2 linked regions of the Homo sapiens genome follow. The protein of the gene in region 1 interacts with the protein of each later gene in a pairwise test. Each region holds a gene or a part of one and is shown on either strand. Other genes may lie near its edges. The genes, in order: PRDM1 and A2M.

What was found.
Region 2: the proteins of PRDM1 (region 1) and A2M interact in binary tests that used the Homo sapiens proteins (3 or more experiments, as listed by UniProt).

What each region holds. Positions count from the first base shown.
Region 1 is NC_000006.12:106,083,573-106,099,135, forward strand, and holds the start of PRDM1 (PR domain zinc finger protein 1), read left to right. Parts: upstream 1-2,763; 5' UTR 2,764-2,981; coding exon 2,982-3,023; intron 3,024-4,181; exon of another isoform or gene 4,182-4,274; coding exon of another isoform or gene 4,275-4,358; intron 4,359-4,628; coding exon 4,629-4,877; intron 4,878-12,042; coding exon 12,043-12,162; intron 12,163-14,516; exon of another isoform or gene 14,517-14,641; intron 14,642-15,368; exon of another isoform or gene 15,369-15,513; coding exon of another isoform or gene 15,514-15,522; intron 15,523-15,563. UniProt on the Homo sapiens protein: Transcription factor that mediates a transcriptional program in various innate and adaptive immune tissue-resident lymphocyte T cell types such as tissue-resident memory T (Trm), natural killer (trNK) and natural killer T (NKT) cells and negatively regulates gene expression of proteins that promote the egress of tissue-resident T-cell populations from non-lymphoid organs.
Region 2 is NC_000012.12:9,101,025-9,116,587, reverse strand, and holds the start of A2M (alpha-2-macroglobulin isoform a precursor), read left to right. Parts: upstream 1-668; 5' UTR 669-738; coding exon 739-824; intron 825-3,044; coding exon 3,045-3,228; intron 3,229-3,898; exon of another isoform or gene 3,899-4,051; coding exon 4,052-4,211; intron 4,212-4,376; coding exon 4,377-4,429; intron 4,430-6,253; coding exon 6,254-6,274; intron 6,275-6,552; coding exon 6,553-6,721; intron 6,722-7,182; coding exon 7,183-7,267; intron 7,268-8,943; coding exon 8,944-9,064; intron 9,065-9,982; coding exon 9,983-10,097; intron 10,098-10,242; coding exon 10,243-10,352; intron 10,353-12,187; coding exon 12,188-12,349; intron 12,350-14,913; coding exon 14,914-15,141; intron 15,142-15,380; coding exon 15,381-15,444; intron 15,445-15,563. UniProt on the Homo sapiens protein: Is able to inhibit all four classes of proteinases by a unique 'trapping' mechanism. This protein has a peptide stretch, called the 'bait region' which contains specific cleavage sites for different proteinases.

The sequences.
Region 1 (15,563 bases):
GAATTAAAATTGGCTGATGGAACTGTTGTGATGATGCCATCCACGGGAATAGATGAGAATTTCTGAGAACAGAACTATTTGGCTCATTCATGATTTGCTGCCATTGTGAACACTTTTAATGTGAGAGCTCTGCCTGAGAAATGCTGATTAATAAAGATAACTGAGGTTCTTTTCGGTGTTCTAACTTGGGGGGAAATAATATAGTGACTAAAAATGCACCAAGTTATTACTTAGAAACAAACCCTTTGAGACATAAGATTCCAGACAGTGGCAGCCTCTGATAGCTCTCTCTGCACAGCTGTACTGCTGCCAGGGTCTCCCAGCTTTAGTCAGCAGTAAAAAGGTGCACTGCTCAGGCCCTCTGGGAGGACCGAGTGAAGTTCAGAGGTCAGTCCCTTTTATTCCCCCTTAATGGTTTTGTGCTGGACAATACCTAAATATTACAATATGGACATGTTTTTTCCTATTATGGAGCAAGCTTCCTTTCTTTTATTTCTTCTTCCTTTTTGGTAGCTTTCATTTTAAATGATGATATCCATCATTGACTACTATAATCATAGTCAAAAGTTGGTTTGGAGGTTTTTTTTTTCCCAATCACTTTGAGACAAGAAGCAAACATGTGAAGGACTTTACATTCCAACACTCTGTGTCTGAAAATTTACTTTCCTTAAAGTTCTACCCGTGGCCTTGTCCAGCTCAGCTGGGACACCTGGAACTAATTTTAGGGTTGCCTGGCTAAGCCCCACACTGGTATTTGAAGTTTGCGTCCTCCCTAGACTCAAGCCCATTTCACCACCTCTGAAGGTGAGTGCAGGCTGATATTAATTAACAGTGAGTTGATTCACTGGCATCTTCCAGTCATTAAAGCAAATATTTGGCTTAAAATAGCCTTCTTCCCACCTCAAATATCAAACTTTTTGCCTATTCCCTTACTCTATCATGGTTGACTCACCAGCAGTTGCATGATGGTGTATGTGGCCTAAGAACAGAGTTTGATTCTAAAAGGGAAGTGAAATACTCTTTAACATCTGCAAGTGAGACTGTTTGAACAGCAGGCCAGCCTTCAGTATGACTACATTGTTTTTCTGTCCATTGTGGTGCTGACTCAGCATCAGTTAATAAACCCTCTTGAGCAGGCTGGATTTCTCTTGTTTAATTATCAGCTTGGAGCTTTCTGAGGACTCTTAGGAATTGTTCATTCAGTTTTCCACCCCCAGCAGATCTGCCTTCTAAAAGTCCTGCTTCCTCTTGGTGCTAGCGTCCCCTCTGGCATAACATGCAATCACAGGTGGGCCACGCAGCAAGCAGCGAGTGTGTGCTAATCATGTCCCCTAGTGGGAATTTAATTGTTCTGTACTGAGAGAGAGATTGCAGCAAGACTTTAGACACCATTTCCTGGCAAATAATCTTTTGCCTCTCCCCCTCTCCCCTAAAAAAAATTCTAGAAAAGTTTTCTAAAAGTGAGAAAAGAAATTTTAAAGATAAACAGACATATTTTTTAGGATTGAGTTGGGCTTTTGTTTTGCTTTGTTTCATTTCTTCCTGTAAACAAATACTCAGATGTCCATTTCATTGTATGACTAAGTTGGTATCATTAGGTTGGAACTGGGTGTGTGTATGTGGGTGTGTGTGTGGGTGGATGTGTGTGCACACGTGTATTTAAAATGTTAGAAAAGACATTGCAGGTCGAAGGAGAAATGATTTTAAAAAAACCTACCTATGGTAAGGCAAGCAGGAAAAATGGAAGACCTGGATTTCAATGATCTAAATAATAATTGAAATGGGGTGTTTGCTATAAACATTGTTTCTCTGAATTAAAGGATTCCTTGCTGAAGGCACAAGACCATTGAAGGAAGTAAAGCATCTGGTTTGTTTTGTAATGAGAAGCAGGAATGCAAGGTCCACGCTCTTAATAATAAACAAACAGGACATTGTATGCCATCATCACAGGATGTCCTTCCTTCAACAGAGGACTGACTGGGCTGGAGGAAAAGCTGGCCGGGGCTCAGAATAAGCCCCACTAATTACTGCCTCCGACCGCTTTCCACTTGCAGTGATCAGTTCAATATTCCTCTGAACTGTGAAACGACTAATGCTCTACATTTTACTTACACTCCTGGGAAGTCAGCCTGTGGGTTCTGGGAGGAGAGGAAAGGAAAACAAACAATCTGTAGAATTATAACTTTTGCCTATTTCCCTATTTACTAAATAGTTAAAAGAGGAAAGTTAGTTCTGCCAAGTTTGAACGTTAGCAGGAGAAACGGAATGTTACAACTTTTGGGGCGGGGGGCGGGGAAACGTGCGTTACATACACAACAGCTTGAGGACCAGACAGCTCCACTGTATTACACTAGCTGCAAAAACAATTTAACTTGCTCTTTTGAAGTAAGATTTGTGTCTTTTGTACCTGGGGATTTGAGCTGAGAAATCAGAAACTGTGTAGGTAAATTTTAAGTTTCCTTAATTTAAGGAACGTGCGCCCCCTAATTCTGCCGCGCCAGGAAGGAGGGCGATCTGGAGTGTTTAGAATACAATAGAGCCCAAGTAAGCGTTGAGGTTAAGTGCCTTCAAAGGGAAGTAAGAAGATTCCAAGTCAATGTTGAAATACACATGCGAAGAGAGGAAGCTCTCGGCGGCTGTGCTAGCAATCTGGGGGAAAGCCCTGGGCTCGGCCAGGTGGTGTTGGCCACGTTGGCCACGCCCCCACTTCGCGCAGCCGAGTGGCTAAGGAAATCTTAAGCAGGGAGGGGAAGCCAGACGGTTAACACAGACAAAGTGCTGCCGTGACACTCGGCCCTCCAGTGTTGCGGAGAGGCAAGAGCAGCGACCGCGGCACCTGTCCGCCCGGAGCTGGGACGCGGGCGCCCGGGCGGCCGGACGAAGCGAGGAGGGACCGCCGAGGTGCGCGTCTGTGCGGCTCAGCCTGGCGGGGGACGCGGGGAGAATGTGGACTGGGTAGAGATGAACGAGACTTTTCTCAGATGTTGGATATTTGCTTGGAAAAACGTGTGGGTACGACCTTGGTAAGGAACTTGAATTTTTTTTTTTTAATTCTGAAATTGATCTGAAAACTTTATTTTCTTTTCCTTTATTGTTATTATTATTAATTTTTTTTGGCTAATGTCGCAGTAGAAACATGCTTCTGCTTTAGTGCACTTAGTGCTGTCAAACATTTGTGAGACTTTCCTTATGAATCATTAACCCTTTCAGTTCTAGACATAATTGCCAATTCATTGAAATTTCAGTAGTGGTTCCAGCTCACACTCGTCAAACTATTCCGGGTTGGCTGAAGTTTTCTATTTTATTTTATTTTTAACATGTGTTTGGCGTCATGACTCTACATGTTGGAACTAAATAAAAATAAGCAGGTTTGCTTAAATCATAACTGAGGGAAAAACAACTTTGCATCCAACTTTTTTTTTTTTAAGAGCATCCTATTTAGAGAAGTGGAAGAATGTAAAAACCTCCTTGAAGGACTTCCACAGAATGTTATGTTTACATTTGAACAAACACACATTCTTACATGGAAATGATACCCATATTCCTCATTTTTATCAAACATGTCTATATGAGAAAACCCTTACAGAAGTTGTTTACCTTTTTTTGCCTTTGGAAAACAGTTTTTTTCTGAGTGTGAGGGAGGATTTTGGGGGAATATCCTCATCAATGTACAAGTGGAAGCAGAGCTTGTCCTCCAAGTCTTCTAAATTTGTTATAACTTTAGTTACAGTAAACTGTAGTACATCAGTGACTTCTGGGAATTCATACACTTTCAGATTTAAATGGAAAGTGCTATTTGTAGCTGAGGACTCCTAAAGGAATTCTCTCCAGGGAATTTTATTAAACGGTTTTATGTTTTGTTTTTGCCTTTTCAATTTGGTATGAGATGCTTGCAAGTCAGAAGACACTGCAGGCTGTTTTCCCCTTCACCCATTTTTCCTCCTCTTTTCCTGTGGTCCAAGTGATTTCTAAGAGGCCGTAGCTCAGTGATGCTGGCAGGATGCAACCCTTTTCAGTCTTCCATGTGAGAGGATGAAAGAGAGCTCGCAGCAGAGGGAGGAGGCAGTTGTTTTGAAAGTTGTTTTGCGTTGGGAGCTGGTGGGAAAGTTCGGTCTTCCCCATTTGGAAAAGGCAGGCTGGGTTCCGCTCCTGCACCACACGCGCTTTCCATTTTTAGCTTCATTCAGAGGCAGACAGAGCTCCTTCCTCTTCCTCTCCTTGTTTGTGACACTTTTCTGAGGCAGCTTTTCCACAGTGCCGAGGGTCTGGCGGCCATGACCCCAGGCATTCTGGGACACTGGACTGTGTGCCCAGAACATTTTTCTGCCATGAGAGGTAAAGCCAGGGATTGTTCAGAGGTGATTCTTTTTTTTTTTTTCCTTTTCCCCACAGTGAGGTTGCCACATTCTTTTTTTTTTTTTTTTTTTTAACTAAGAGTAGCATTTAAAAACCTTGCTTCTTTTCAAGGCAGTTTACTTTATACGGCTTCTTGGCTCTTTCTCAACTGTACCAAGCACTCTGCATCTGCTTTTAAAGTCTTCAGACTACTGTATTAGTCATAGCCTCTCAGAAGGAGCCACAGGAACGGCGGGACAATGGGGATTAAAGGCCTTTCCTTTCTCTTCCAGGCTGCCCCCAAGTGTAACTCCAGCACTGTGAGGTTTCAGGGATTGGCAGAGGGGACCAAGGGGACCATGAAAATGGACATGGAGGATGCGGATATGACTCTGTGGACAGAGGCTGAGTTTGAAGAGAAGTGTACATACATTGTGAACGACCACCCCTGGGATTCTGGTGCTGATGGCGGTACTTCGGTTCAGGCGGAGGCATCCTTACCAAGGAATCTGCTTTTCAAGTATGCCACCAACAGTGAAGAGGTAAGCCTCTGGTTTATTGACAAGAAGATTGGGGACCTGGTGCCAAATCTCCCTACTTGCCCTTGAGGCCTTGTATATCTCTGAAAACCTCTGAGAATCTGTAAGTATCAGTAAATAATTGATTGCTCTATTCAATTCTTGCATTGCTTTCTCTTTCCCTAAACCATTTCCTTCTCATTTCTTCCAGCCTTCAACTGTTCCTCACTAATTAGTAAACAGTTAAATATTTTGGCAAATTGGCATGTCTTAGAAAAGCAACTTGCAGCATAGGGTGGGTGAAATTGTCAGTGAACTTCAAGAAAGCTCTGGGCCCACTGGCCCTAGTGTCCCTGTTGTACAATATCTCTTAAGGGAGAAAACTTTTTCTTGGAAAAAAAAGTTTTAATATTTCTTTTGTCTGTCTTTGGTAATTAGTTGGCTTTACTCTTTTTAACAAGCCAGCTTTATTAGCTGGGTTTCTAAAACTATCCTCAAAACTTTGACGTGTTTATGAAGTGAAGTGATGGTATAAGCCGAGAAAGGGGGTCATGTAAAAGTGTCCTCTGTCTGGATGACTTCAGAGCTAACCACTGTTTATCTGCAGCAGCTCCTTTGCTGGGGCTGGGCTGGCAGGCCAATTCCTTACTGGCCTCTGAAGTGGGTACACTCTTTGTTGTTTCAAAGGGGATGAAAACCCAAACTTGGAATGAGCAACTGATTTGTGTTTACCTTTAATATAAAGATTATAGCTAGGCGTGATGTTTAGCTGTGAAATAACTTGCAGAACCACCTCTTGTTTTCAGAATTTGGCTTACTGTAGTTGCACTTACTAGTCTACTACTGGGTTGAGTTGAATGAAAGGACCCCTCAGCAGACTTCCCATACCACCATTAGCACAGAGCACTGTCAATTCTATTACTTCCTTCAGAAAGTAGGGAAAGGGGATGGTTGGCCGTAGAAATCCAGAATTTGCTACTGGGACTATTCCTTACAGCCGTGTCAAATCACTTTCCCCCTTCCCTAAGGAACAGTATTTGAAGGAATCCGGGAGACTAGGAAATGCTTTGTCTCTTTCCTGTTTGTGTGTCTGAGTCCAGTGTTTTTGGTGAGGGGGAGACACAGCTGTCTAAAATTAAATAGAACAACGATGCTCAGTCTTTCTTTTTTCCCCCACTGCTGCGTGAATGGAGGCAGATTTTATAAAAAATAAAATTTAAATTCTAGTTGTAGTTGAATGTTACCAAAAAATTTAACCCCAGAGGTCAGCCTTAATTATACCTCTTCCTGAAAGTAATGCTCTTCTTATAGAAAGTCTCTCAATATGTGGCCCTTGGAATGAATGTAGGATTTGTTTGGGTATATGAGGTTTGACTATGGCTTTAAAAAGTGTAGTGTGTTTTTTCCCCATATCAAGTTTGACCAAATATTCGTCTGTTCCCAAGCTTCGTTTGTGCTGTGTTGCCCTGTCCAGTCCTTTGGGACTGAAGTAAAAATCTCCATTCTGTGGGTCATCTTTGCCTTTTAATTCTATAATGTTCTTATCGTCAGTTCAGCTCTTAGCTTAAGTTTTTCAATTTCCGTCATTCTCCTTTAAAATCATAGCTAAGTCAAGTAATGCTCTTAGATCATTTAGTTCAAGGTTCAGAAAGACAGTCACTTACCCAAAGGCATATAGGTAAAGCCAGACCGGGGACTTGAAGCAAAGCTTTTCTGACTTCTCCAATGAGTGCTTCTCGATTATGCTACACTGGCCCCTCTTGGTGTCACTGTGGTTTTAGTTATCATCTTAATATATTTCAGACCAATCCTTAAGCTATTTTGTGTTTTTTTCCCTCTGAATGTATAACTTCCTATTTCAATATATTAAGCAACCAAAAAACAGACAATGCCTGTGTTCCTGAAGAAGGTCCTTCGAAACTAACCTAAGAGGTGAGGGTTCTCTTATCCTATTTCCCTATCTTGCATTTAACTGAAGCGCTTGAATAGAGGATAGTATGTCTTTAAACCCTAATCATAAAGTCAAGCAAGGAGTAAACTTGAATGTAATACTGTCTTAAGCTTACTCTGGAATTTGTACCTGTTTTTCTGTTTCTCTCCTTTGTTTTTGAACTTTGGGAAAGGACAGCTTCCTTTAGAAGGTGAAAGAGGATGGTGGAGTTGAGCCATTAAGGGTAGGATAGCTGCAAACTAGTTCCGGGACAGCAACATTAAGGATTGATGAAATGTTTACATTATCTTTATTCAGTTAGTTCTTTAAGTTCCATGAGCCATTGAAATAGGAAGAGTCTTTCTACATGTACTTTTTATCTGACTTATTAATCTTGCCCTTCTTTAAATGTTTTCGTTTAAATAGCAAAAGATGTTACAATATGTACTATTGTGCTGACATACCGGGGAATTTTTTTTTTACAAGACCATTTTTCATTATGAATTTGTACCATGTGTCAGCACCTTTTTTTTTTTTTTGGTTAAAACAAAACATACAAATCATATTTCTGATCTTGACCCTCATTTTTAGATTGGGTTTAGAATCATTCTGCACCTTTAATGAAAAACTGTTCTTACTTCCTATTTCCAGAACTGAAATCAAATATAGACCTACTATTCAAAACTTTGAAAATGTTTTAAACTGATGGGTTATTCTTTTATGGGGGTTTTCCCCTTGTCCTCCTGAAATAATCTCTTATGACTACTTGACTACAGAAAAATCAGTTCAAGCATTTATATTTTAGAAGCGTTACCCTGTAGAGTTTCTGCCGTCGGTTGAGACTGCTTGCACTCAAGAGGCACTGTGGCTCTGTGAGTCTCACCTCCCTGTATCGTGGCTGATAAACATCAGACAGATTGTGAGGACTCCTTTGGTGTCCATTCTGATCGAAATCCATTATTAACTCAAGCCATCTGTAAAAAGTATCTCACCATAACATGCAATTCTCTCTTCATGTTGCCTTTTATTTGAGAAATGATGTACCAAGGCATCACCATGTCTCCTTTAATAGAAAGATAATGAAGAAGGAAACCTTCTCCAAACAACTTTGTTCACTTCACTCCTTTTAAAAATGGGGTGATTGCCGGGCGCGGTGGCTCACGCCTGTAATCCCAGCACTTTGGGAGGCTGAGGACAGCAGATCACCTGAGGTCAGGAGTTCAAGACCAGCCTAGCCAACATGGTGAAACCCCATCTCTACTAAAAATACAAAAATTAGCCGGGCGTGGTGGTGGGCGCCTGTAATCCCAGCTACCTGAGAGGCTGAGGTAGGAGAATCGCTTGAACCTGGGAGGTGGAGTGAGCCGAGATCGTGCCATTGCACTCCAGCCCAGGCAACGAGAGTGAAACTCTGTTTCAAAATAAATAAGTAAATAAATGCCATTGCACTCCAGCCCAGGCAACAAGAGCAAAACCCTGTTTCTAAATAAATAAAATAAAATAAAAATGAGGTGATTGCAGGCTGAAGGTCTTGGTCACTACTGAGTTCTAGTTCTCTCAAGACAAATATTCATATGGTCAAAACAGAATTATAATCTAACGAGTCATTCTTATAGAGTGGGATTCGGGGAGGGAAAACAGATAGCTAGTAATTTAAATGATCTTAATGTAATTTGGGGAGAGGATGATCAGATGACATTTAGACTTGGATATAGTTTCTGCTTCAAACCCACGCTGTGTGTGTCTGTTTGCATACTCTCTAAAGAAGGAATTTGAAAAAAAAAAAAAAAAACAAACCTATATTGTCCTTGTTATCAGCCTTCCATTAAGCGCTCCAACTCAACCCATCCTAAGCTGTCAAATCTCCTTCATTGTGTAAAATTGAAAAGAAGCCCTGTGTTTTGTCCGGAAGCTGTGGAAACTGTGGACGGCGGGGTGTGTTCTGTAACTGAGGCCACAGACAGAAACAAATCTGCTCAAGTGGTGGAGGGGTCTGCACCGCACATAAAGAGCTTCTGTGGGAGCAGGTGAAGCAAGGAGGTATTGAAGCCGGGTGTCCTCTTGCTGTTGAGTTTATAGAAGGCACAGAGCGGCCTGTCCCCAGCAGTAATTCTTTAGGACCCTGGTCAGTTCCAGTGAAGTTTCCTTCTTGAGTTAGGTGAACACATTCTTTGTCTTTTTAGCACTGTGAAGTTTAAGCTACACACCAAGTTCCTCCTTAGTATTTGCTTGGTTCAAAGATAAACTGTTACAAACTATGGGTCAGGGAGATGGGTAGTCTAAGATGCACATTCTGGATCTTTCTAGGACCAGAGGGAGACTTAGTACTTGGTTTTTTCACTTCCCTTTAAAAACAATCCTGGTTCCTGTTCCCCCTCCAAAGTTACCTGGACAAGCACCATAGTCTTAGAGTTTCAGCTTTTATGGCGTCTGTGTCTCAGACGTGCATTTGAGATGAAGATGTTTACTGTATATTAGAACGCTAGACTTAGAATGGATATAGGTGGTTTGTAAGTGCCTTCCAGTTTTGAAATTTTATGATTTTGTATCTTTATCTATAGGTGTGAGTTTATATGTGCCCTATAGCACTGTATGTAATTGAAATTTAAAATATTAGGGCGCTCTGTCCCTTTCCTAATGATAAGCTAATATTGAAGCTCTTTAATTTGTCTGGGGTTTGAGGATTATCATAGACCTCTCTTCTACCACAGAGCCTTCTCTTTTTAATTGTTCTCCTGTCTTGCCTGTTGAATTGAATTTGTAAGGTTAGAGATGGCAAGAGCTACTTCCGGTGCTGCTTTATAGCTTACTAGTGATGAGTCTATAGTTGTGCTCAAATAGGTATTGGGTAGCTTATGCTTTCTAGTTGACTTCTTTTTGGGCACAAGAAAATGTGTGTAAGATGGATAACTGAAAACCTAGAGGCCCATTCTGTAAAAGAATGGCAATTTGGAAGAAGAACCACGACCTCAGTGCAGTGCTCCGTTTTGGTAATCAAGCTCTGACTCCCAAGACACCATCTGTAAGAGACTATAATTTAAAACAAAGTTGATGAACCAGTTGAGTGCCTTTCTTAAAATTACTGTTGTAAAGTAGATATGTTGAAAATATCAACTGCTAATTATTGGCTCACCAACAAATGGCATGATTTGTTTTTCCTGTTTGTCATTCTAATATTATGGAATAATCACTGAAATATGAATGTTAAATGATTTGCATGTCATAGAATTCAATTCCATTAATTTTCCAAATTAATTAGATTCAATAATAATATGTCCAAAACAATGAGCCTCTGAATAAGTCTACTAAAGCTTTAAATATATATATTTATATCTCAAGACTGCTCTGAGATACTCTTGTCCCCAGTAGTTTTACTGCCAACAAATACCAATAATGACAAACGGTGATTAAAAGGGCAGATAGATGTAAATGAAGGCAGAGGAGGAGGATGAAATGAACATCTGCTTTTTTCAGCTCTCTGACAGAAATTCTTAAAGGACCAAAAATAACACTCTTGTTTCAACTTATGTTAGGTGTAGGAAAATTTTCTTTTTTTCTCTTTCCAGTCTGAGTATGCTTCATTGATTTGTATATTGAATACTAAATTGTTTTAGAAAAAAAAATCATTGGCTGATAAGACACTTAAATGAGAAAAGCTAGTCTGTCACAGGCATGTAGGTGTGCCATATCTATTTAAATAGAGGTTTAAATTATTGATGAGACTTAATGAGGAACTGGTGTATATTGTAACCAAAATTGTAGATTCCACTGTGAACAATCTGTGCATGGATCGATTCACATATTTGAGTCTACCATTTCAGGTACATGAATGTACAGGAGCTACTGGGAATATAAAAACTGGAAAATAAACATTATCATCTATTACCACTCCCTCCTCCTTGGTCCATTTTAGTAAAGAATTCAGTAAAGTGATAGGTAGGCTATCTTGAATGAGAAGAAAATAAAACTAGGAAAGTGAGAGAATAAAAACCAAAACAAAACTGTAACTGCAAACTGTTGTAAAGGACTACTCACAGAGGAGTTCTATTGAATAGTGACGAATTGCTTCCTGATTCACGGTTGGTGATTTTTTTACCCCTTCAAAGAGAAATTTATTATTAAGGAGGAACTGGTATAGTTAACATGTTTCTTTAGCAAGGCCCCACAAAGTTAAAATGTGTGATGCATCCAGTCTGAGGTCATTTCCTCAGATCTTAGAACCTACAGCTTTCCTCCGTATAAACTTAATTTCAAAGGAGGGCTTTTGGCCAGGCATGGTGGCTCAGCCTGTAATCTCAGCACTTTGGGAGGCCGAGGTGGGAGGATCGCTTGAGTCCAGGAGTTTGAGACAAGGCTGGGCAACATGGTGAGACCCCTTCTCAACAATAACAACAAAAATTAGCTGGGCGTGATGGTGCATGCCTGTAGTCCCAGCTACTCAGGAGGCTGAGGTGGGAGGATCTCTTGATCCCAGGAGGTCAAGGCTGCAATGAGCTAAGATCAAGCCACTGCATTCCAGCCTGAGTGATAGTGGGAGACCTTGTCTTTAAAACACACACACACACACACACACACACGAGGGCCTTTGACCACTCTTGAGTAGAAGACTCGAGAAGAACAAAGTAGAAGGCCAGAGAAGAACAAAGTTACTTGAAAGATCTCTTATTAAAGAGAATGTACAAGCTATGAAAAAAAAAAAACACACACACACACACAAACCTCATCTGGAATGAAAAAAACATAATGCATTTGGTTTCTGGTTCCTTAGGCTGTTATGGAACAACCAAAGAACATTATTTTGGTTTCTGAGGTCAGAACTATTTTATTCCCCTCAAGCACACTATGCTTATGGTTTGAGGGAGAATGAGAAATAGGAAACTAGGAACAGGCTGAAATGGTCTAATCTTGACCATCTAATTCTGCAGTGTCTTATTCTCATTCTAAAAGAGAATGGTTATATTCGCTGTTCTAGCATAAAAAGTAATGATAAAAATAAAAGATCCCGTATTACCAGACAATAATCCCCTAGACTGTTTTAATGCTTGGTTGAGTATTTGCTTATGATCTCAGACTTTAAAAGATGGTCTCCCCCTATGGTGAAGCTTGTTAATTATGTAGGCATCATTAATGTCTGTTTACTTATCAAAATTTTATCATTGTTAGTTGTATTACTACTTGACAGTCCAATTTATTTAATTGAAAAGATTGGTTAACATTTTATAGTCAAAGTAATTGTTTCCTGTGTTTTTTCCTGTTTAGGTTATTGGAGTGATGAGTAAAGAATACATACCAAAGGGCACACGTTTTGGACCCCTAATAGGTGAAATCTACACCAATGACACAGTTCCTAAGAACGCCAACAGGAAATATTTTTGGAGGGTAAGTAAGGGAAATTTCTTCAGACCCATTAAATGTTAGGAAAAAATGGAGCTAAAAGAGCTGGGTGGCTCACCTTTCTCATCCTGTGCTGAGAAATGCTGGGGCTCACCCATAAGTATCCAGCATCCCCATGGACACAGGGAATTCTGAACAAATGTGATGAAACCGATGAAATGTCTGGCCTGTAGGTGGTTAGTGATGGAGATACGGGCTATATGTGAATCTTGATTTTTGCAATTCATTAGAGCTTTGTAATGAAAGGAAACAGTTTGTTGCTTGCTTTAAGGATAGGTTCATTTGCATTTCTCCGCAAGGAAGTAGTAATGAGTTACCAAGCCTTAGATTTCACCCCTTTTTGATTTCTTGCTGACTTAACTTTAATTGAATGGAAGAGTTATCACAAATGAATTATCTTTTTGGTTTTTTTTTTTTTGAGATGGAGTCTCACTCTGTCACCAGGCTGGAGTGCAATGGCATGATCTCGGCTCACTGCAACCTCCGCCTCCCAGGTTCAAGCAATTGTCCTGCCTCAGCCTCCCGAGTAGCTGGGACTAAGGTGCGCGCCACCATGCCCAGTTAATTTTTGTATTTTTAGTAGAGACGGGGTTCCACTATGTTGGCCATGATGGTCTCGATCTCTGGACCTCGTGATCCGCCCACCTTGGCCTCCCAAAGTGCTGGAATTACAGGCAAGAGCCACCGCGCCCAGCCAGGAATGACAAATGAATTACCTTATAAGTAAATGCCATTAAGGAAGGATAGCTGGAAGATGGGTTGAGGGGAATGGAGGACCACAGAACTAGTCCTATTTAAATACATGTGCATGGTAAAATGATTCCATTTGACAATAGGTTAATTATCTCATAGCATAAGGAAAATGCTTAACAGTCATATGCAAGATGATAAGCTTTCCTATAGCATCCAACCAAAAGATCTAGCCAGTACAATTTCCTTTGCTATATTAGGGTTAGAAAGGCCCCCAGAGGTGAACCAATTAGATGGAATCCTTGAATAAAACACTGGATTAGCAGTGAACAGAAAAAAGTCAGATTGCTTTCCTTCTTCCCATAGATGTCTCAGGGATATTTAGTTTCCTCAGAAGATAAAGAATTTAGTAAGCGTTTTTTTGTGCATACTTACATGAAATGTACATTATTTGAATTCTTTAAAAAGAAACAGCTGCATGATAACAAAAATTGTGTTATGCTTGCTTTAGCTGGTATTTTTGCCTAGAACGATTATATCGTTCGGACAAGAAGCTATTCCTAAGAAACAATATTTTTAATCCAGGAAGTTTTTCATTTTTAGAAATTTATCTTACTATTTCCCAAGCAAAAGAGGGTAGTTACAGATTCACTAAGAATCATGTGCTCACAATTTTTATTTAATAATTATTCCTCCTTAAAATATATTAATCACCTGACTTACAATGGTGGAACCATGAGTGCATTTTTGCCTTTATTGTCAATAACGTCTTCTCAGAAGTGAGCCACAAAGGTGCATAGTTCTTGGAGTTAAAGGTCTGAATTAAGACAATCCAGCATAAGTCTCATTAATGTGTGATTATTTTGAGAAAAGGCAAGAAGTACCTAAGAATCTCCCCCTCACTGTCCAGTTCCCTGTTTCATTTAAAGATTCACTGTAAGTAACTGAAAGGCTTTCCTTGGGAGGATTTATTTGAATCAGTCTTTCACATGCAAAGGATATTGTAGAACATCTCGTTTTTGCTGGCAGGAATATGAACATCTGTTGTGAGGAAAGAAAAAGTTTCATGCAAATTACACTGCCAAAGAAGGGATGTTCAAGTTGAGAAACCAGTGACATTTCTTGTAACTGTACTATGAATCAGCGCATTTTAATCTTCTAGATAATATATGGAAGTGCAGGAAGGTGGTAGGAAACGGTGTTCATTTTACATATGCGTTATTTTATTCTGTGTGAGTGACTTCATGGCACCGACATTGCTGTTTTTAAATGAGGATACAGTAAATTGCAGTCCGAGGAAGGCTAACTGGAATCAACATACCCGTAGCTTTAGAAAGCAGTTTCCGCACCAGCGAAGAGTACAAGAGCGATGGAACCCCATGTTCCTGGAAGTTTGCACATCAGAGTAAACAAACTTGAAAACCCCTCTTGATAGCAGAATTCACCCAGCCTTGTTCCATTTTCTCTTAACAAAACACACCGCAAAAGCTCTCACAAGCTGCTTTGATGAAGCCACATGTATTTCCCCCTTCACAATTTACAGGAAGTTACTCTTAAAAGAAAGTGATTCTGGTGTTTACCGCCTGTGTTAAAGGGACAGAGTTCCTTTTTATTTCTGATAACGTTTGAGCGAAATACAGAAACTATCTGTAGACTAGCATAGTCGGTACGTGAGTAAGGAAAAGCAATAACCTGCTGTCCGGTGAGCACAAAATTCCTGCTACGAACAGTGCCTTACTGCTGCTTGGAGACTGCAAGTCGCAGATCACACTAGGTATTGACTGATTGTATAAGGAAATTTCTTAAAGTCTAAAGTAAAGGTGGTACCTCCTAAAAAGAGGGGAAGAGAGAAAACTTTGTGTGGAAGGATAAGGAGTGTGTTTATAGTTTCAGTAAGAGTGTACGTTTTAATTTTTCTTCTTCCTCTGCCTCTTTGCCAAGTAGCCTGAGTGCATCTGTTATCCAGAAGTAGTATTACTCTAGGACAAACTTCAAATTCTTCATTCTGCGTTGCCTTTAAGGAACAACATACTTTCTTCCTGTTCTTTTTCCAAAAACACACGCCTATGGCTCTGTGTGTGGTGTTTTAGCCAGCCTCCTCCCAGATAAGGGGTTCCCTTCCCTCCTTTGCATTGAAAGGAAAGTGCAAGTCTGGACATGTTTATCAAGAGGAAAAGTGACTTCTCAGTAATAGACTGTCAAATTCGGGCTGCTGCCCGAGTGTTCGCTTTGTTATGGCAGGTGAAGTTCACCTTTGCCCCACCCAGTGTTTCCACAAAAAGGCAAGGTTCCAAGTATTCATATGAACAAGTGTTACTTTAGGACTTGGAGGGTTGGGGGTGGAGGATGTTTGCATAGTTGAAGCCTTGGGCGGGGGTGTAGGAAACGGCGAGTACAGAGGCCATAGAAAAAGCTAAGACTCAGTTTGACGTCGTCAGCCGGCTTGGTCTTCTACCCAGTGACTCAAAGCACTAAAAGTCAGCATAATCGGAACTGAAGTCAGTAGCATCGCCCATTTGCCATTCACTGCAGTAGCAAAAGTAGTACTCTGTGGTGGGTTAATCGGTTTGAGGCAGCTCCTTAAATGAACATTTGTGTTTCATTTTTCTGTTATTTTCCCGAACATGAAAAGACGATAAAACTGAAATGGAAAAGGTAACTGACAAAAGTGTGCCTTACCTGTTTCCGCCCTGATT
Region 2 (15,563 bases), on another chromosome or scaffold:
TAGTCGATGGTAAAGGCAATTGGGAAGTTTGTTAGGCACAATAGGTCAAAATTTGTTTTTGAAGTCCTGTTACTTCACGTTTCTTTGTTTCACTTTCTTAAAACAGGAAACTCTTTTCTATGATCATTCTTCCAGGGCCTGGCTCTTCATCTGCAACCCAGTAATATCCCTAATGTCAAAAAGCTACTGGTTTAATTCGTGCCATTTTCAAAGAGGACTACTGAATTCTGATGTGGCTTCAAACATTTAGGTTAGGCATATCTAATGGAGAACTTGCAGCCACACTGACTTGTAGTGAAATATCTATTTTGAGCCTGCCCAGTGTTGCTTAAATTGTAGTTTTCCTTGCCAGCTATTCATACAAGAGATGTGAGAAGCACCATAAAAGGCGTTGTGAGGAGTTGTGGGGGAGTGAGGGAGAGAAGAGGTTGAAAAGCTTATTAGCTGCTGTACGGTAAAAGTGAGCTCTTACGGGAATGGGAATGTAGTTTTAGCCCTCCAGGGATTCTATTTAGCCCGCCAGGAATTAACCTTGACTATAAATAGGCCATCAATGACCTTTCCAGAGAATGTTCAGAGACCTCAACTTTGTTTAGAGATCTTGTGTGGGTGGAACTTCCTGTTTGCACACAGAGCAGCATAAAGCCCAGTTGCTTTGGGAAGTGTTTGGGACCAGATGGATTGTAGGGAGTAGGGTACAATACAGTCTGTTCTCCTCCAGCTCCTTCTTTCTGCAACATGGGGAAGAACAAACTCCTTCATCCAAGTCTGGTTCTTCTCCTCTTGGTCCTCCTGCCCACAGACGCCTCAGTCTCTGGAAAACCGTGAGTTCCACACAGAGAGCGTGAAGCATGAACCTAGAGTCCTTCATTTATTGCAGATTTTTCTTTATATCATTCCTTTTTCTTTCCTATGATACTGTCATCTTCTTATCTCTAAGATTCCTTCCAGATTTTACAAATCTAGTTTACTCATTACTTGCTTACTTTTAATCATTCTTCCCCAACTCTCTGAAGCTCTAATATGCAAAGCCTTCCTAAGGGGTGTCAGAAATTTTTAGCTTTTTAAAAGAATAAATTTTAGATATTCACATTCATATTGATCTACTTGAGACCATGCTATTTATCTTTTCTTATTTCCTCTTTCTCAAGGGTCCATTTTCTATTTTATAAAAATAAAGACAATTCTCTCCCACAACCAAACATGGAACAATGCCCTGGAGTATAAAAATCTATAGAGTGCCAAATAAAGGAACAATTTGAAATACTGGTGTTGATATTGAAAAAGCAAGGGACTCTAATGTCAGAAGAGAAATCCTTTTGCAGATGAGGTGGTGATGAATTCTTTGTTTCAACACAACTGAAGGAGGAACTGAAGGAAATACCAGCTGATGAGTGATGAGAAGGGATTCTTGATAATAGAGTACTAGGTGATTTTTGGCATGTAATGCAGAAGTTGCAAGAAGTGGTAACAATGATGCAATTGTTTTACCTGCCATTTATTTACTTTTATGTGAGCCATTCTTCTTAGCACTTATAGCTACACAAAACAAAAATAGTAACAGAATTAATGTTGTTTAATTCTTGCAATCCATGGATGCATAAATTCACTGGGGGAAAAAACAGCTCATCATTCTCATTAAAGATGTGCTTCAAAAGTATTTTAATTTTATATCTAATATGTATGAATCATACTTTGTATTTATTTTGTTTTGATCAGTTATATACAAGTATTTTTGAACATAGCTCAGTCAGAAGGAAATGTTTAATATTTATAAATTTATGGTTACATTCTATTTAAAAGAGGAGTTAAAGTTAAATTTACCTACCCACATATGTTACATATATATGTATTTATGTATATGTATTCATATATGTATATATGTGAACATAAGTATACATACGTATATGTATAGATGCTTGACAATAAAGAAGTAAGAATAATTCACAACATTTTTTGAAATATAAAAATTTAGGATAAATTTCTGTATGGTAATTGGCATGGAAATTCAAATTCAAAAAGGAAAAAAGAAGAGAAAGATATTAAATATCAGACCATTAAAAGAATTTTTTAATGTACTTTTAAATAGTGATAGTAGGTATCTTATACTACAGTGTTTATTATTCATGAGAAAATTGTAAAAGTAATCTAAGTATTAATTTAAAATATCATCAAAAATAATATCTTTTGCTATTACTTAAAATCATGATAAAAATATGTTTACTTGAAAATATGTAAGGAGTGCACAGAGTCCAAAAATTATTTTAGGAGTTCTGTGAGCAAAAATGTATAAAAACTACAGGGTTGATCTTAAATTACATGTCAGGGTACTGAGAAAGTTTCTGTACTGCACATGAGTTACCAAGGTCTAAAGTCAATCACCAGAGGACCATTTTTGGATGGAGCCATTGTCTAATCATGAGCTGAAAGGCAAATATTTAAAATGCAAACATCCATGGTTAGGTAACACTCTTAAGACCTTATTAGCTGCTTACCACAACTGAGACTGTGAAGTAATGGCTCACTTTCTTTGAGGCTCAGATTCCATATCTGTGGAGTGGAAGCGAGTGCTTACCATACAATTTTCACAGGGCTGCTGAATGTGTGTATGTATGTATGTGTGTATATATATTTTAATGAAAATTCTATAATTTGATTAGTTTTTGTAATGTCCGCATGACTGAGAGCTTGCTTACTTTTTACAGCAACTTGAAGGTAAAAATAGATTTTACAACATGAACAAATGTAACTACATATTTTTATTTGAATTCAGATGTTCACAAATTGTTCCTTAAAGTGAAGCATGCCTACAAGTTTTAATCTGTTTAAGACCTACCTCAAGTAAAATGTTCACTGCCATGGCATGTGAGGGAAAAGGGAAATAATTCTTATGCATGGCCTTCAACGGCCAAATTTCATGCTCATCAGTACATCTTCTCTTGGTGTAGAACTGATGATGATAATTATGATGATGGAAAAAAGTGCTGTTGATAGCAATGCCTCTCTTCCTTCACTTTCCTCTAACTGAACCGTCTCATTCCCAGGCAGTATATGGTTCTGGTCCCCTCCCTGCTCCACACTGAGACCACTGAGAAGGGCTGTGTCCTTCTGAGCTACCTGAATGAGACAGTGACTGTAAGTGCTTCCTTGGAGTCTGTCAGGGGAAACAGGAGCCTCTTCACTGACCTGGAGGCGGAGAATGACGTACTCCACTGTGTCGCCTTCGCTGTGAGTGTGGCTGTTTGACTTAATATACTTGGTTCTTTTAGTCAGGGTCATAGGGATCTAGTATTCTGTCAGATGAGGCTTTGGGAGGTTGGTAAGAACTGCAGGAAGGAATCCAAATGTAGCAAACTAAGTATAGAAATTAAGGAGCAATGCATGACTCTCCAGCCATGGGAGACAAATATTTACAGGCAAACTAAAAGTCAGCTTAATAATCACATAGAAACCCTATTAGCCAGAAAGGAAAAAAAAAAAAAGAAAATGTGACTTCTTAAAATTAAGATGGAAAAAATATTAATAAAGCAAACTAGACCAAGGCTCAACATGAGCCACCCGTGGTGGACTGACAGGAACACATCACTCCACACTACTTCTAAGAGTAAAAATTGTAGAAATTACCCTGAGCAAAGGTGTAATATCTCTTCAGAGTTGTCCACATGTGAGATGCTTACAGCCTAGTGTCAGTAAAATACGGGGTTTTTTTCCATAGCCTGTAAAACATGCTTCGACCATGCCCTTTTAGCATGTAATATCAGCCTGGTAAAGCTCAGCGTATAATTGAATCAAGACTGTTTCTGTGAGCTGTATGAAGGTGTGAATCTCACTTACAACCTCTCTTACTGATTTATTTTCCTCCACCTTGTGTCCTGTCTCCCCATTTGTAAAATGGCAGAAGTGATTCCTGTCCATGCCAACTTTCCCTGCTGAGAACAAGGGAGTGAAGTTAAGTAAGAAGGGCAAGATCTCCAGGGAAGAGTGCAACAGCAAATAGGGGAGGAGACCTGCGGGTGCTGAATGGGGTTTCAGGATCGGTCCTGTATTTCAGGTCCCAAAGTCTTCATCCAATGAGGAGGTAATGTTCCTCACTGTCCAAGTGAAAGGACCAACCCAAGAATTTAAGAAGCGGACCACAGTGATGGTTAAGAACGAGGACAGTCTGGTCTTTGTCCAGACAGACAAATCAATCTACAAACCAGGGCAGACAGGTATGAAGAAGCCTACAGACAGGACAACTTCAAAAAGGAAAGATCTTCTTCCCCTGGATGTTCCCCAGGCAAAGTTCCTATAATCTTGGTTCCTTAATAGCTTGTCTTACCAGCCTACAGGCCTACTTTGGGTTTGGGGGCTCATGAAAAATATTTCTGTTTCAGTGAAATTTCGTGTTGTCTCCATGGATGAAAACTTTCACCCCCTGAATGAGTTGGTGAGTTTTCTATTATCTACATAAAATGATTGTCTGTATAAACAGGCTGGGAACCTGTTTTTTGTGCTGAGGGAAGACCAGGGAGAGGAAGAATCTGGTATCATTAACAGTAACTTCTGGCATTACAACAGCACAAGATCCTAATCTAAAACATCATTCCAGGTAAAGAAAGTAGGTAATTCTTTCTGTCTTGGTGCTGGTACTCAGTCAGTTGTCACACAATTAAATTTACTTTTCGGATGGTTCTTAATTAGGACAATTAGAAAGATACATTCAATAGCAGACACAGAAAAATCCTCAAAGAACCTAAGCTCAAAAAACATTTTAAAGATTTAGATTTTTTCTATACACATCTACCAAAATCTTCACTATAAAGGAAAGTCAGGGTAATTAATTTGTTCCTCAAGACTAACTCTTGGTATCTGTGATAAGAAACAGTTCTTTCTATTGTAATGCAGACATCAACCCAAAGTCTTCATTTTTCTCTCCCAAATTAACTTCTTCACATTTTCTTATCTCAAAAAGAGGCAACTCTTCTCTTCTAGCTCCAAAGACAAAAGATTATGGCCTAGTTCTTGTTTCTCTTTCTCTCATACCCACATCCACTTCACTGGAAAATCATGTTGGCTTAAAATATATTCAGACTATTTCTTATCATCTGAACTACTGCTGCAAGCTAGTCCTAGTCAATGTCATCTCTAAATAAGATCATTACAATAACCTTCAAAGTGGTCTCCCAGCTTCTACTTTCACTCCTCTGTCTAAAATGAGGCACCACACCCATCACTCTGTCAGCCTAACTTGGCTTTGTTTTTCTATTTGCACTTACCACCATTCTATACGTATTGATTTTTAAAAATCTGCCTATTTCTATTATAACATAAGCTCCATTAAAACATGGTTTATTGTTCTTTTGTGCGTGGTTATATTCTCAATACCTAGAATGATACACAGCGCATGAGAAGGTACTTAATAAAGATTAGTTTTTAAAAATGAATAAACATTCATAGTAGCTTCTTATCAATGTTTATTCATTTTTAAAAGTAATATTTATTAAACTAAATTTATTAATGAAATATGTCCATTCCTCCTCATTCTTAGAACTACGTAAGAATTCTATGACCCATCTTAATGATTACATCTGAACATATTTACTTATAGTTACATAAGTGTTTATTTCTCAACCTGTAAAATTGCATAGCAAAGGATTGATCTTCACTAGGATGCTATAAGCACTTAAGACATGTTAATCCATTTTTAGTAAATGGCACTTTACATGTATATTTGTTGCTGAAGGCCTAGTAAGTTCTTAACATTATTTATTAATTGCTTAAAATAGATTAATGAAAAGTTCTATAAAATTTAATCTGGAATATTTCTGTATTTCACTATAGAGGGAATTATTCTATATGAAACTAATTTAGATTTTTTAAACTTTTTATTGTTTTTAATTTTTGTGGAAACATAGCAGGTATATATATTTATGGGTTACATGAGATATTTTGATACAGGCATGCAGTGCATGATAATGATTATGGATGATAATCATTATCATTATCCATATCATTATCCAATCATGGATAATGATTATTATCATGCATTGCATGCCTGTATCAATAAATGGAGTACCCATCCCCTCAAACATTTATTCTTTGTGTTACGAACAAATCCAATTATACTTTTAGTTATTTTTAAATGTACAATTAAATTATTTTTTACTATACTCACCCTGTTATGCTAGCAAATACTAGCTGCTTTGCTTATAAATGAGATTTAAGAATATTTGAAAATAATTATAAACTTCTTTTTTCTTTTGTCTTTCAGATTCCACTAGTATACATTCAGGTAAGCAACATGAAACATTCCATATTAAAAGGAAAGCAATACATATAGGGAAAATGTTCTTATTTCAGAGGTTTTTACAATATCTCAGAAACTTGTCATTAAAGGAGAAGCCTTCAAACTCCCATAGAGCTAGATGGCTATAACTCATCTCCTCTACTCACCCTTTACTACTACCCCATTTGACCTTTTTGTAGATAACTTAGGGTTTCCATAGATATCTTTTATTAGCTCCAATGCTCCAGGTGCTTTTGTAAGTTATAATTAATTTACTCATATAGGATCCCAAAGGAAATCGCATCGCACAATGGCAGAGTTTCCAGTTAGAGGGTGGCCTCAAGCAATTTTCTTTTCCCCTCTCATCAGAGCCCTTCCAGGGCTCCTACAAGGTGGTGGTACAGAAGAAATCAGGTGGAAGGACAGAGCACCCTTTCACCGTGGAGGAATTTGGTATGGATCATGAAAAGTCATCAAGCATTATTTTTCTTCATATTTAAACTCTTAGGTCCTGGAATTTAAGTTCATTTGGAGTCTTTCCATTTCCCATGGGTGACATTGGGCTTGGAGTAGAATTAATTACACCTAAGTCCAATGAGGACATCAGTGATCTGTGAATAGGACTTCACATAGCTTCGTTATTTTCTGTAGCAATATTTAATACCAACCCCCAAAATTAAAACATTCTTGTTTTAATGGAGTTTTCCATAATTAATTAAGCACACAGTGATCTCTCATAGTCCCTCAACTGAAATCTTCATTTGAGAGGAGGATAGATAAGAATAGATTGGAGAGCAGAGCTACCTTTTCAGAGCCCTAAAATATTATTAGGGAACTGTTACAGGGAACCTGAAAATAGGAATTCCCCCAAAGTTGAAAACCAATCACCAACCTTCTTTATCACCAATCAACAGTTCTTCCCAAGTTTGAAGTACAAGTAACAGTGCCAAAGATAATCACCATCTTGGAAGAAGAGATGAATGTATCAGTGTGTGGCCTGTGAGTTCATTTTTTAAAAATCTTTTGTGGGGGATTATTTAAAAGAGACTCACCATTTGGGATATTTTAACTACTCTCTCCGGGAGCAGTGGCAACACAAAAATTTTAAGTGCTTTGACAGCATCCTCATCTGTAGAATGTTATTCTCCTGTTGCTTTTCTATTTTTATTTTCTTTCACGTTCTTATCAGTATTATTCTATCATGAGGTAAGAAACTGTTTCTAGAGAGGTTATGCTAATAGGATTGATTCTGAAAGTGACAAAACTGCACACACACACACACACAAAATGGGAAGGGTGGATAGTGTTGAAGGGTATTGGTTCTGCCTTAACCAAAAATAACCAAACGTATATTAGGGAGATAATTAACACATGGCTATAGGGGAAATTCAATCATCAACAGATCATTTACCTGACCTTGCATGCTTACTGGAAAAATCACTTAGATTCAGAATTTGTAGAGATAGGCATACAACTGAAATCTCATCTAACTCACTAGTCCACCTAAGGCGGGTCTACATACCTGTCTGCACTGACATTTTTACGAAGAGACTGAACGTGATTTCTCAAGACAGTCTGTTCCAACCTTGAAAAGTCTTGTTTCCTGGATCTTATGTTCCCATCCATGGTGGCACACAGTAGCAGTAGCAGGAAGAGCAGGTATAGTCCTGTCCAAAGATCACACATGTAATACACCTACTATTCAGCTAGGCCCCTGCTCCAGTTCTGTCTCACAGTGATGGCCAAGTTCCTGGTTCCTCATAACTGGTGTGATCTTGCAAATAGACATACAGAGGACATTCTCAAATAGGAAAGGAGACAAATGCACTTGGAAACCCAGCAATTGTCTATGACATATTTACGACACAATCCCACTTTTGTAAAAAAGTAAACAGGCCCGGCGTGGTGGCTCACGCCTGTAATCCCAGCACTTTGGGAGGCTGAGGTGGGCAGATCACGAGGTCAGGAGATCAAGACCATCCTGGCTAACATGGTGAAACCCCGTCTCTACTAAAAAATACAAAAAATTAGCCAGGCATGGTGGCCAGCGCCTGTAGTCCCAGCTACTTGGGAAGCTGAGGCAGGAGAATGGCATGAACCCAGGAGGTGGAGGTTGCAGTGAGCCAAGATCGCACCACTGCACTCCAGCCTGGGCGACAGAGCGAGACTCCATCTCAAAAATAAAATAAAATAAAATAAAATAAAATAAAATAAAATAAACAAGTGAAACTCGATATAGAGATGGCTGCACATGGGGAGAGGATGATGGAAGAAGAGACACTATCGTACTAATAGTTTGTATTCCTAGGTAGACTTGAGGGCGTTTGGGTTTTTTTTGTTCTGTTTTGTTTTGTTTGTTTCGTCTTGCTGGTATTGTTTCTCTTTTAAGAACGGGTTTAAGTTTTATAATAAGAAAGACTTTTTTAAGATAAAACTAAAAAAAAACGAGGAAAAAAAAGAAATGATAAAAGAAGAATGTAAATTTCAGCATGTTGCAATGGAGATTTCTATAAGAGCCATTAGTGACTCTTGTCTTCAATATTGTGTGAGCCCAGCAGAGAGCAGAGGGAAGTACAGACAGGGAATATACTGTAGCTAAAGGGGAGATATAAATAGCTAGAAAATGGGGAGGTTCAGTGTCTGCTCTGATTCCTTTGGGAATGTTCTCATGACAGATACACATATGGGAAGCCTGTCCCTGGACATGTGACTGTGAGCATTTGCAGAAAGTATAGTGACGCTTCCGACTGCCACGGTGAAGATTCACAGGCTTTCTGTGAGAAATTCAGTGGACAGGTAGGTTGAACACTATTTTTTCTAGAGAATAGCGATAAAGGCATTGTTGAAAAGCAGTGAGTTGCAGCATTTTTCTGACGCAGGAAGAGAACAATCTAGAAGAGAATTCCATGTTGGCTATTGTAATTTTTCAAAAAAAATCATGAACTTAGCACAATGGGAATTATTTATTTCTCGTAATTGCCCATTGTGAGTGTTTCAGAACGATAGACACTGAGCCATCTAAAGCCTCCATGGGCATTCACTTCTACAAAGGAAGGAAAAAACCATACACCTCTTAATTGCCTTAGCTGGCCAGGCCATCAGTTCTGCTCTCTCTGTGAACAAGAACCTATCACATGGCCCCACCAAGATGCCAGAGAGTTGACAAACACAGTCCCCATATAGAAGGCCGCTTCCCAGCCACAGCTGAATATTATGGAGGAGGAACCAGACTTTGATGAGGAGTTCTAATGGTCAAGAGCAGATGTACTGTGTATTTCAAAATAGCAAGTGGACAGGACTTGAACTATTTCCAACACATAGAAATGATACATACTTGAGTTGGTAGGCACCCTAAATCCCGCGATGTGATCATTACACATTCTCTGCATGTAACAAAATATCTCGTGTACCCCATAAATATGTATAAATATTATGCATCCTTTGTACAAAAAAAATTACTCCTCAAATTTTAAGACATTTCTATCGCAATATATCTAGGGAATTTCAGATACCAAGGAATACATCTGTCAATTATACATGAGATATTGTTGTGAAATTTAATATTTAGTTGCTAGAGAATATTTATTGTGTCCTCGTCATAGAAAATGCCTACATGATGTTGTCCCCCCACAAAAATCACACCGGTTATCTGACCACTGATCTATTTAGTATAATATGCATTATATTTTTGTATTTTATTTTCTCCCTTCTTAGCTAAACAGCCATGGCTGCTTCTATCAGCAAGTAAAAACCAAGGTCTTCCAGCTGAAGAGGAAGGAGTATGAAATGAAACTTCACACTGAGGCCCAGATCCAAGAAGAAGGAACAGGTTTGTGTACTACATGGGTATAAGAGAAAACACAACAGGCATTGATTTTCTTAGCCAAATAATGAATTGTAAGTTGGGGGGAGGTGATAGAATTTTAGAGACATCATTCTTCCCAAAAATAACAGATTTTTTTCTCTTTTTTCAGTGGTGGAATTGACTGGAAGGCAGTCCAGTGAAATCACAAGAACCATAACCAAACTCTCATTTGTGAAAGTGGACTCACACTTTCGACAGGGAATTCCCTTCTTTGGGCAGGTGGAGTATTTTCCAGTTCACTCATCAACCCATGTACTGTTACCTAATTAGCACAATAGTTATGGTTTGTGCTAAAACCATGCCTGGTTAATGTTATCATTTAATATAACCAAAAGTATAAAATATCACCAAGGCTTGATTAGTATAACCAAAGGTATAAAACTACATAAAAATAGATTTATTCTTCTGTAAATTTGTGTATGAAATGTATGTAATTATCCTAAGGCCTTATTAAAATTAGTAGAGTTTTCCCCCCTTCTTTTGAAACAGCATTGTACAAGTCACTCAATCTCCTTCTCATGGTTTACCAGGCAGTCTCAGGTTTTTATGACATTTTCTCACAAGAATCTCAAAATTCATGCTGACCAGTTTCATTACGATGCTAACACTAACTTTGTATGGAAACAGGTGGGTAGGTGGTTTTAATTTTTATTTTGAAGTATTAAAGATTCTACAATAATGTTTATTTCATGGATAGTATATTTACACTATTTTTCTATAACAAGTATATTTCTAAAACAGTGAACATGGGGTAAAACACTGCTATTTAAGGTTCTCAGATTTTTGAATTATGAATTTTCATGTTATCTACCAAAAAAATCTTCTCTTACAATTTTTCTGTTGTCAGCAGATGTGCAAATGGATCTTTATGACTCTAGAAGTCTGAGATCACAGTTACATGTGCCTCAATGTGTATTTACTGTGTATCATTTTCTTAATGTAAATGTTACAGGATTTCAGCTATGAAGGGTGTAAAAGAGGCATAGACTCAACAAAGTGGAGTACATTCTAGAAGGCTTGGTTATGTCATGACACCAAAATGTATTCAACTTCCTAAAATGAAAGTGTAGCTCATTTGTAAATTTCTCAGAAAGATAGTGTACTTTGTAAGTACATTTTATTGCTGTTAAATATCCTATTTGTCATAAGACTCTCTAGCTAGAAGAAAATCAGAATTATGTGCCTATTCTTGTCTTTGTACATGCAGCCAACATTTCACTGGCAAACTTAGATTTTGTAAATCAATTATGAGTACTGATGGGGGTCAGCCTATTGTTCTTCCTGCTACCAACTGTAGCTTATACTGAAAAAGAATTGCCACCTTTACAATCTGAACTGGACTACTCAACTGCCAATACAATATTAGCAGTAAATTAGATTTGGCAACTTATTTAATACTGTGTGCCTCTTTTCAATTTTATATTTTTCACATGGGAAGTGTGTCATAAAATCTGCCTACCTTCCAAAAGGCTGAAGATCTAGGTTGAGAAGCAGAGACCATGTCTAAGGCAACTGGAGAAACACACAGGACAATGTATTGGCAATTGTTTACTTGTGCACTTATGAGACTTCAGACACTAATCTATAGGAAGTTAATGGTCCACTCCAAAATAGGTGTTTGGGGCACAAATAAATTTAGTTAATAGATTAATAGATTAAAATATTTCATTATCATATTACTCTAGTGCTCTGTGACTCTCTAAGAGTTATATATAATAATACACAGCACTTCCAAAATATCTAGAAGACATTTTTCAGGTCACTCTTGTTATTATCCCTATCACTCTCTATCCCTTCACACTGCTCTGTTTTTCTTCTTAGGATTGATTACTACTAAATTAGTGTATGTTATGTATATATTTATTTAGCATCTATCTCTTTCACTAGACAGTAAGCTCTGTGATGGAAGAAACTTCGTTTTTTTTCACTGCTGTGTCCTCAGTGCCTGGAACCATGTTCAACATAGAGGAGGCACTAAAAAATGTGATAAATGAATATGTTTGGTGCCTATTAGTTATTACCAATATAACTAATCCACAGCTTTTAATCTTCAGGTGCGCCTAGTAGATGGGAAAGGCGTCCCTATACCAAATAAAGTCATATTCATCAGAGGAAATGAAGCAAACTATTACTCCAATGCTACCACGGATGAGCATGGCCTTGTACAGTTCTCTATCAACACCACCAATGTTATGGGTACCTCTCTTACTGTTAGGGTAAGTTTGGAAAGAAATTACCAATGACATGAAGTAGCCTTGGAAACAAGGTTGCAACCTAAGGGTGAGAAAATTTCCAAACTGTGTCTAGTTCTATGGAGAGAAAAAAACTAGCAATTAGAAACCGATTGAAGGTTAACTTTTTTAAAGTTTATGAAAAGAAGGCAGTATATTGTGATTAAAAGTGCGGGTTAGACTTTAGCAGTGTTGCTGGGAACGTAAAATGGCGGAGCCACTATGAAAAACAGTATAGTAGTTCCTGAAAAAATTAAAAAATAGAATTACCAAATGATCCAGTAATCCTACTTCTGGACATATATTCAAAAGAATCGAAAACGGGGTCTCAAAGAGCTATTTGCACACCCGTGTTCATAGCCGCACTATTCACAATAGCTGAGAGATCGAGGCTACCCAAATGTCCATCAAGGGATGAACAGGTAAACAAAATGTGGTATATAAATACAACAGAATATTATGCAGCCTGAGAAGGGAAGAAAATCCTGTCACATGCTACAGCATGAATGATCCTTGAGGACGTTATGGTAAGTGAAATAAGCTAGTCACAAAAAGACCAATACTGTATGATTCACGTACATGGGGTTTCTAAAGTAGTCAAAGTCATAGAAACAGAAAACAGGATGGTGGTTGCCAAGGGCTAGGGAAAGAGAGAAATGGGGAATTCCTCTTATTGGTATTCAGGTTTAGTTTTACAAGATGAAAAGTTCTGGAGATCTGTTGCACAACAGATATACTTAATACTACCAAACTGTACACTAAAGAATAATGAAGATGGTAATTTTATGTTGTGTGTGTGTGTGTGTTTATAATAACTTTTTTGAAAAGTGTGAATTCCAGAATCTGAATCAGATAAAGTGGTTAAAAATACTGGCTCAACCCTATTTTAAGGAATTAACTAAAACCTCTGTGCTTCATTTCCTTATCTGTAAAATGATTGCAATACTAACACCTGACTCTTGGGGTGGTTGTGAAGATTAAGTGAAATCATACATGTTGAATCACTTAGTAAGCCCCCTTTAACTGTTAGATACTTTTACTATAAAAGCCAATTCTAACATAATTAGCATTTAGTTTTAAATATATATACTCCAAAAATTATTACCTTACTTTATTTTGTCTTGCTATTCTAATTTTCTCCAGATGACCTGTTCATACCAATATAAGTTATTCGGTATAGCATGCAGTCCTCTATTCATCAAGAGAGATGTAGACATGTCTATAGATACATGGATATACAATACATATTTAATATATATTACATAATCATGGTAATGGAAAACGCCTGCCTCTTTAGAGTTTTACCTTGTTATAGAGAAATAAATAATACATTTTATTTATTTAGCTTTAATAGATGGCATAAAAGCACCTCCCTCTAATTTGAATGTTTACTCATTTCAAAAAGTGTCTTGAATGCTTTCCACGTGCCAGCACTGTGCTAGTCTTGACAATGAAATTATTATTTCTACCTGTTCCCTGTTTGGGGTGATCATATATGTGTTGTCACCAAAATATACATTAAGATATGAACAAAATGTTTTGCTCAAGGATTCACTAGTGCTATTGGGAGCTGGGGATGAAGGTAGAGGAAGCCTGAAAGGAGCTAAGGAATAACTTCTACAGGAAGAAAAGTTGGAAATATAACCCAAATAGGGCCTCTGAGGTATTAGAATCCAGATTGCAGGGAGCATTAAAAATAGTCAGCCTAGGCCAGGCACGGTAGCTCACGCCTGTAATCCCAGCACTTTGGGAGGCTGAGGTGGGTGGATTGCGTGAGGCCAGGAGATCGAGACGAGCCTAGGCAACGTGGTGAAACCCTGTCTCTACAAAATATACAAAAAATTAGCTGGGTGGGGTGGCATGCACCTGTAGTCCTAGCAACTCAGGAGGCTGACTGGGAGGATCACTTGAGCCCCAGAGGCAGAGATTGCACTGAGCCAAGATTGTGCCACTGTACTCCAGCATGGGCGCCAGAGCAAAACCCTGTCTCAAAAAAATAATAATAATAGCAATCAGCCTAAGATAGCCCAGAAGAGGTAGACTTCAGCTAATTCATCAGCTCAGCTCTTAAACCAATGCTTTCTACCAATGTCTTCTCAGACCCCTAAGGTTACAATATTTTATTTATTCATAATACCCATTCAAAATCCACCCTAAAAGAGGCAGCTGCTTTCTGAAAGCACAGTTCTTCCATTTCTAGAGATTATTTACTCTCCTCAATGAAGTTTCATAGCTCCAGTGTCTCTAATTGCACAGGTAAAGCAGTCAAAGAAATTTCAAGCAAGCTAATCAGAGCAAAGGATGCCTCCTTTTATGCTCTTAAGAAATATAAATCTCAATCCCAGGAGGCTCTGCAGTGTAAAGTCACAAAGCATGCCTACATTTGAAGCAGAGAAACAAAATCAGGGGTCCTTCTCCCACTTTTCATTGTGGAACAAAAGATTTCTAGCTACTAGTTAAGGTAGGACAGTAAACTTACGTAGTTTTGTGAGAACATTAATCTTTATGACGTATAATCTAAAAATAATATAATTTTTCTAATTCATTAGGTCAATTACAAGGATCGTAGTCCCTGTTACGGCTACCAGTGGGTGTCAGAAGAACACGAAGAGGCACATCACACTGCTTATCTTGTGTTCTCCCCAAGCAAGAGCTTTGTCCACCTTGAGCCCATGTCTCATGAACTACCCTGTGGCCATACTCAGACAGTCCAGGCACATTATATTCTGAATGGAGGCACCCTGCTGGGGCTGAAGAAGCTCTCCTTCTATTATCTGGTGAGAAGGGAGGTTACTGCGTTGACTTCACTGTAGACAAAAGCTCTCTGTGGAGCAAGTAATCATGAAGCTCTTTAGATGTCATTACTTCAACTTCTTATCCATGTTCCTTTTGAAAGTTTGATTTCTCTTGAGGTGAATTATTGCCGGCAGGGACTCAATAAAACAAGTATATTGAAGTGAGACTGAAGCGTGTTCTCTCTGGCACATTTAATTTCTTTTTATTTCCTTTTTTGCAGATAATGGCAAAGGGAGGCATTGTCCGAACTGGGACTCATGGACTGCTTGTGAAGCAGGAAGACAGTGAGTATTTCCATCATCTCTGCATTGCTGCCCCATTCTGACCCATTCAGCCTTACACCACGGAAGTATCAGAATACTTTCCCTTTTTTTCCATAGGTTTTTGGGGGAACAGGTGGTGT